2 linked regions of the Homo sapiens genome follow. The protein of the gene in region 1 purifies or fractionates together with the protein of each later gene. This does not show direct contact. Each region holds a gene or a part of one and is shown on either strand. Other genes may lie near its edges.

Region 1 (3,500 bases):
GGGTGTGGAAAAGGTCCGAAAGTGGCATGCGGCAGGGCATGGATCTTCTAGCTCCTGCCGTCCTGCTCCATGAAGCGCATGAAGTGCCTGTCTCTGCTATGGGTTGGCATGGGAACCAGGGGCAGTGGGGGAAATTGAAAACAAGAGCAGTGAGAATGGCGAGTTTCCTGTTTCAGCTATGCCATCTCTGTCTCCGAATCTTCTCATTTAGAGCCTCTCCCTTTCCCTCCCTGGGAGGTTACAGAGTAACCAAGGGAGAGAGACACCAAGGTCTTAAGATACTGATGTAACAAGGGCCAGGGTGTAAAGGCCGGAACAACAGGGATCCCAGGAGAGGGACTGAACTGTTGGTCAGGGGATGGTTGGAGACCTGGTTTGGTGGCCTTTCTCATGTCCATCCCCCCACTTTCTCAGTTCCAGTGTCAGATGAGGATTCTGATGCCATGGTAGATGACCCCAATGATGAGGACTTTGTGCCATTCCGGCCCCGGCGCTCTCCTCGCATGTCCCTACGCTCAAGTGTGTCACAAAGGGCCGGGCGCTCTGCAGTGGGCACCAAGATGACTTGTGCACATTGCCGGACACCACTGCAGAAGGGGCAGACTGCCTATCAGCGCAAGGGGCTGCCTCAGCTCTTCTGCTCGTCATCCTGCCTCACCACTTTCTCCAAGAAGCCCTCGGGCAAAAAGACCTGTACCTTCTGCAAGAAGTGCGTGAGGGTCTTGGGGGCTATGCAGAGGGCAGGGATCTGGGCAGGAGTATGAGTAAGACAGAGACTGTTGGTAAGAACCTAGCAGGATGGAGCTGGGCGAGAGAGTGATGTAGGGAGAGAGTCAGAGTATTTGGCTCTGTGGTCATTGATCCTGGAGGAGGGGCGGAAGCTGAGGAAATGAGAGGGTGGTCTTGAGTGAATATTCAAACCTGTTCCCACCTCTAGGGAGATCTGGAACACCAAGGACTCGGTTGTGGCGCAGACTGGTTCTGGAGGCTCCTTCCATGAGTTCTGCACATCCGTCTGTCTCTCCCTGTATGAGGCCCAGCAGCAGCGCCCGATCCCCCAGTCTGGGGATCCCGCCGACGCTACTCGCTGCAGCATATGCCAGAAGACTGGAGAGGTGAGGACACTCAGTGGGGGCTGATTTACAGAGCCTGGCCAGCCCTGACCTGCCCCTCCCATCCTGGGGCTGCAGGGTCCAGGCCCTGTGGAAAGGGGAGTGGGGAGGAAAGGCGGCCATCATGAGGGAGCGTATTCAAGGACAGAGCTTCTCCAGGATGTGCACAGCTGGCCTTCCTTACCTCCCAGGACCTCACCATCAAGTCGGCAGCCTGCGGCGCAGGTTGGGGGGTCCCTGGGCCCACTGTCTGCTGTGAAGGTCTAGGGTGAGGTGGGGGGCTGACCTTGCATTGGGGTGGGCGGTGGTGGCCAGGCCCTAGCTCAGGGTGCGTGTATGTGTGTGGCAGGTCCTGCACGAGGTCAGCAATGGCAGCGTGGTACACCGGCTCTGCAGCGATTCTTGCTTCTCCAAATTCCGGGCCAACAAGGGACTGAAAACCAACTGTTGTGACCAGTGTGGGGCTTACATCTACACCAAGACCGGGAGTCCTGGCCCTGAGCTCCTCTTCCACGAGGGCCAACAAAAGCGGTTCTGCAACACAACCTGCTTGGGGGCGTACAAGAAGGTGGGGCCGAGGGAGTAGTGCATTAGAGGGCTGTGGAAGGGGGTGTGGTTCTTGGGTTATAAATAAAGGTGGCTGATGGGTCAAGGGCTGGGAGAAATAAAACAAATAAAGGGGGTTTCAATTGTATCCGTTATGTTTTATTTTTGAAGCTGGCTGGTGGATACACAGGTCTTTGTTACATCATCATCTATACTTTTTTTGTATGCCTGAAATATTTCATGTTTAAAACATTTAAAAAATAAAAGTGAAGGGACAAATCCAGCCTCAGCCTCTCCTTCCCCATCCTCACAGAAAAACACACGTGTGTACCCATGTGTCTGGTGCAAGACCCTGTGTAAGAACTTTGAGATGCTATCACATGTGGATCGTAATGGCAAGACCAGCTTGTTCTGTTCCCTGTGCTGTACCACTTCTTACAAAGTGAAGCAGGCAGGGCTCACTGGTAGGTGCAAAGCCCTCTTCTCTGAGTCCCCTGCTGGCCTTCTCTCTACCTCCCATACTCCCCTCTTCCAGAGTAATCCTTGCTGCCCGACCTCAGTCCCAACCACATCTCCCCATGGATTTTCTGTTCGTCTCTTACACTGCCTTACACCTTCTGTGTGCTCTCTCTCTCCCTCTCTCTTTCTCTTTTCCTCTCTCTCTTTCTCTCTATGCCCCAGGCCCTCCCCGACCCTGCAGCTTCTGCCGCCGCAGCCTCTCTGACCCCTGTTACTACAACAAGGTTGACCGCACAGTCTACCAGTTCTGCAGCCCCAGCTGCTGGACCAAGTTCCAGGTACTCCAGACCCTGGACCAGGGATAGAAGGGTTTGGCAACATAAAGAGGGTTGGAGAATTGGGGTAGGCAGGCCTGGGCAGAGCAAAGAACAAGCCTGACTCCCCTTCCCCACCGCTGCACACATCTTGCCCCTCCCTTACTTGTCTTCCTTCCCTCCAGCGCACAAGCCCTGAGGGGGGCATTCACCTGAGCTGTCACTACTGTCACAGCCTCTTCAGTGGCAAGCCTGAGGTCTTGGACTGGCAGGTAAGAGCCCCACCCCCACCCACGTCTTGCCACACGACCAGACTGTCTGAAGGGGTCCTTCCACTTGGCCCCTGCTGGGGCCAGATGTTACAGCTTGTCCTCCCTGCCCTGTGCCCCCACCTCAGGACCAAGTGTTCCAGTTCTGCTGCCGTGATTGCTGTGAGGACTTCAAGCGGCTTCGGGGTGTGGTGTCCCAGTGTGAGCACTGTCGGCAGGAGAAACTCTTGCATGAGAAACTCCGATTCAGCGGAGTGGAGAAAAGCTTCTGCAGCGAAGGTAAGGAGATGGGGAAGGGCAGAAGACACTATAACTCCCAGCCAGGGAGAATGGAGGAGAAGGGAGGGAGGCCGGGAAAGTGGTCCATGAGGCAGGGCCTTCTGCCCGGGATGTTCTACCCCCATCTCCCCTAAAGTTTTGGGCACAAGGGGCTGCTTAGAGAGAGGTTTCAGGTATAGCACCTTGAAAAGGTTGGGTCTCTTGCCCTTGGGTATCTGTGTCTCTGGACTCTCTTTCCTCTTCTCCTCTTTCCAGGCTGTGTGCTGCTGTACAAACAGGACTTCACTAAGAAGCTGGGCTTGTGCTGTATCACTTGTACTTACTGCTCCCAGACCTGCCAGCGCGGAGTCACCGAGCAACTGGATGGCAGCACCTGGGACTTCTGCAGTGAGGACTGTAAGAGCAAGTACCTGCTGTGGTACTGCAAGGTAAGGAGGGTCAGCATGCGAGCGAGGCGGGAAAGAGGGCAGTGGGGAGCACGGGCTGTGGTACTGAGCTCGGGGTGTGGACAGATCTCCAGG
Region 2 (3,500 bases), on another chromosome or scaffold:
CAGGTCATGGTAATAAAAGCACTTTGATTTAATTCATCCATGTATTGCATAATTTTTCTTGGATATGTATGCCTACTAGGTACTTCTTACAACTTAAATATAGATTACTAAGTCACAGATCATCACTGAGAGGCACTTATTTTGACCTAGAAAAACTGCTGGTTCCTGCTAGTTGATCAAATTATAACCTGCTGACCTCTCCCAAGTGTAATTCAGTTCTGCAGATAAACAACATTGACTATATCTTTGGTGTTTTTAGGTGGTTTACATCTTGGAGAAAAAACATTCTCGAGCAGCAACCGGCTTCCTCAAACTCTTGGCTGATAAGAACAGCGAACTGTTTAGGAAATACGCCCTGTTTTCTCCCTCAGACCACCGAGTGCCTAGAATTTATGTGCCTCTCAAGGACTGTCCCCAGGACTTTGTGGCACGGCCTAAAGATTATGCCAACACACTGTTCATCTGCCGCATTGTGGACTGGAAGGAGGACTGCAATTTTGCCCTGGGGTAGGTGATCTCTGGTAGGAAAAACCACAGGTCACAGGCAGAACTCAGTTTAGGTGGTCTTTAGGTAAACTTTTTGTGTATTTTAATTATTATTTCTTTATTGAAGCACGGTTTCTGGTGTATTTTGGTCCTGATTCTTCAGAAGTCACTCTTAGCTGCCACCTCAACTGATTGCCTGTATGTTCCTTGAATTACCAGGCAGTCACATTCTTGTTTTTGTTTTTTGGCGTAAAACATGAACATTCCGAGCCTCTACTTATTTAGTTATGTCATGTGTCCTATTTGTACTTGTGTACCACAGATAATTCATTGCATCAAACAACCAGTCCTCTCCTTGCAGATGCTAGTGTTAAACCATGCAAAGTCTAGGCATATTCAGGAGACCCCAGGCTCCTTTGCTTTAAAATATGAACATGAAGGTATATTTAAATGGCATTCTTTTTCGGTATTGATTTTGCCTGTGGCATTAAAAACTACCCTATTGTAAGAAGGAAAAGGGTATCATGTTTTTGTGGATGCTGTCAGAGATCAATCTAACTTAAATATACATGACATAGTCCAGGAGCATCATGGATGGCCACTTCATTTTCATCTGAAGAAACTGCTGGACCCAGTTGTTTGACCAAATGCTATGCCTATTTTCTTCTTAGAACTGGTATTCATATTGAAAGAAAAGCAGTAAGTTTTAGCTATGTTAAGTGTTTATTATAGATGATGTCTGGTTTATGCTTCACAGGAAATGACTATAAAGGTATACAATCTAGAAAAGAGCCTGTTGATTTACTTTTAGTCTAGTTTAATGACTTGCTTGTTGGTCATCTAACTTGTACAGGATGCACCCTCCTGGGAATGTCCTATGGGTAGGAGAGTCAGCACTGAATGGATGGCTACAATGTGCTGCTTTTATCAGGTTTATTCTATACTTAGCTTCTTATGCCTAGCAAAATAAGCCAAATCAAATGTGTGTGTCATATGTAAGAGTGTTTCATATATAAGAAACACTACCCTGTGCCACTTTTTCAGTTATATGAAGATTGGTGTGATTTAAATGATCTCATAGCTACTTAGGAACAGTTGTACTTTCTTTTTTTCCTCTCAAGTGGTGTGATTGCAATGTCATCATTTTTAAGCCTAACTAATTATCCAAAAGTGATGTCAACCCCTTGAGCCCTAAATAGTCCTTCTTACAAGCTTGCCCGTTTCTCACCATCAAATCAAAAGGCCCAGTAACGGTTGTGCCACCTGGTCCTGTTGATTGTGCAGCCACACTCTGTTTGGCAGTAAAAGAGGAAGACTTTCACATCAAACCAGGAAATCCAGCCTTGTTTTTTATCTGCCTTTCTGTCGTATCCCATTGTGTGTACTTGATTGGACTACTTCCTTAGTTTTCAAGTTGTAAGGGTGTAGTCAGGAAATCTTCATAGTATGAGTTTCTCTTATTACTTTCATGGCCTTATAGGTATTTTTTAATTTTTATTTTTTTTATAGCTGAGCCATTACTTCATCAGGAACCCTTTTCTTGAAGGTAAAATACAACAAAAAGGGAGTCAGGTCTTTGAAGCCTCAAGCACATTTGCTGGATTTAAAGAAATAATATTTAAAAAGTCACATATTAATCATGTAATTTTCAAAATAAAAAATGAAGATAATCATATTTAGATGGAAACATCATGCTTTTTCTCTACCTTCTTAATATAAGGATATAAAAATTGTCATTTATGGAAATATGCCTTTTAAAATCTTTGTGAAGAAGAGAAAATTTATTTTAAGAAATAAAACATGGTAGGTTTTCCTGATGAATTTCTCAAATGACGTCTGTTGTATGAGGGGTGAGGGCTGCAGCTGTTGAGTATGTTGGTGGTCGCCTTGCCATTTTGTTCTGGTTATCCGTTACTGATCTTTAAGAACTGAGGTCACTTTTTCTTAATCAGAACATGCTGTGCTATGACTGCCTAGGTTTCCTCCCTTATCTTTGCCAGGCTTTGACCAGGAGTGTGACGGTAATACCTGCTGTGGGTGCGAAAGTGTTATGGTTAGCTTCCACATAAACTATCCCTAAAAATCAAGTTTAGCTAAGGTGGCTTCCTTCTCAATTTGTTCCCAACTCCTATACCTCTCTCCTTAAAAGTATCGGACTTCCTTTGCCTATGTAATTGCTTCTAATTATTCAAGTTCAAAGTCATTTTCCTCTTCTGTAGTTACATTTAGTTCACCAGGCTGGTTTTGATCCAACTATGTGTAAAGCACTATGCTATATTATCTGAGAAATACAATGGTAAACAAGTTATGGATTCGTTACTTAAGGAACTTATAGTCTAATGCAAAAGGATTTTTGCATGTATATATCATAGCGATAATTTGATTCTAAGAAGTGTAATCCCACTTGAACTAATTTAAATAAAAGTAGAGATTAATATAAGAAGCTGGTGATTCTTTTAAAAACCAGAGCAGGAAATGGAGGAAGTCTCATGAGAAAATCAGAACTAACAAGGCAACAAAGGAACCACAGCTTCTCTTTCACCCCTGTGACTAGCCCAGCCACCACACAGTATCTTTTCTTTACCCCTTTTTGCACATGAGCTGTGTTATTCTGCTTCTCTCTGCACAGTAGTCTTCTACCTGCACAACAGCACACGTGGCCCCAAAATGGCACTGCCAGTCCTATGGCAGTTACATACTAAAGTCTAGATCATAATACAGAATTTCTATGGTGGAAAATCTTACTGGTCTAGCTTGAGGCAGGTGTTTTCCCTCGTCAGTAGTTTCAAGCAGAGGTGGGGGTCCAGAGTCCCATCCATGACTCACACCCAATTTGCAGCGCTGTGGGACTCCTGGGAAAGAGCGTGGATAAAACAGATGGCTTGAATGGCTTATCTCTTTGAGTTCTACCTACAGTACAAAACAGAATGTTCTAAGTTCTTCCATAGAATAGAATAATTTGGGGGAATTTAGAGGAGGTAGGTAAAGGGGGAAATCCAGGATCATTTCTTATA

Evidence for each region. The genes of interacting proteins can lie anywhere in the genome.
Region 2: the proteins of ZMYM3 (region 1) and DIS3L2 fractionate together in Homo sapiens (co-fractionation; one large-scale study listed by BioGRID). This does not show direct contact.

The regions. Positions count from the first base shown.
Region 1 is NC_000023.11:71,247,641-71,251,140, reverse strand, and holds part of ZMYM3 (zinc finger MYM-type protein 3), read left to right. Parts: intron 1-414; coding exon 415-709; intron 710-937; coding exon 938-1,115; intron 1,116-1,461; coding exon 1,462-1,680; coding exon of another isoform or gene 1,681-1,698; exon of another isoform or gene 1,699-1,937; intron 1,938-1,971; coding exon 1,972-2,122; intron 2,123-2,339; coding exon 2,340-2,455; intron 2,456-2,616; coding exon 2,617-2,703; intron 2,704-2,828; coding exon 2,829-2,979; intron 2,980-3,234; coding exon 3,235-3,407; intron 3,408-3,500. UniProt on the Homo sapiens protein: Plays a role in the regulation of cell morphology and cytoskeletal organization.
Region 2 is NC_000002.12:232,136,213-232,139,712, forward strand, and holds part of DIS3L2 (DIS3-like exonuclease 2), read left to right. Parts: intron 1-259; coding exon 260-507; intron 508-3,500.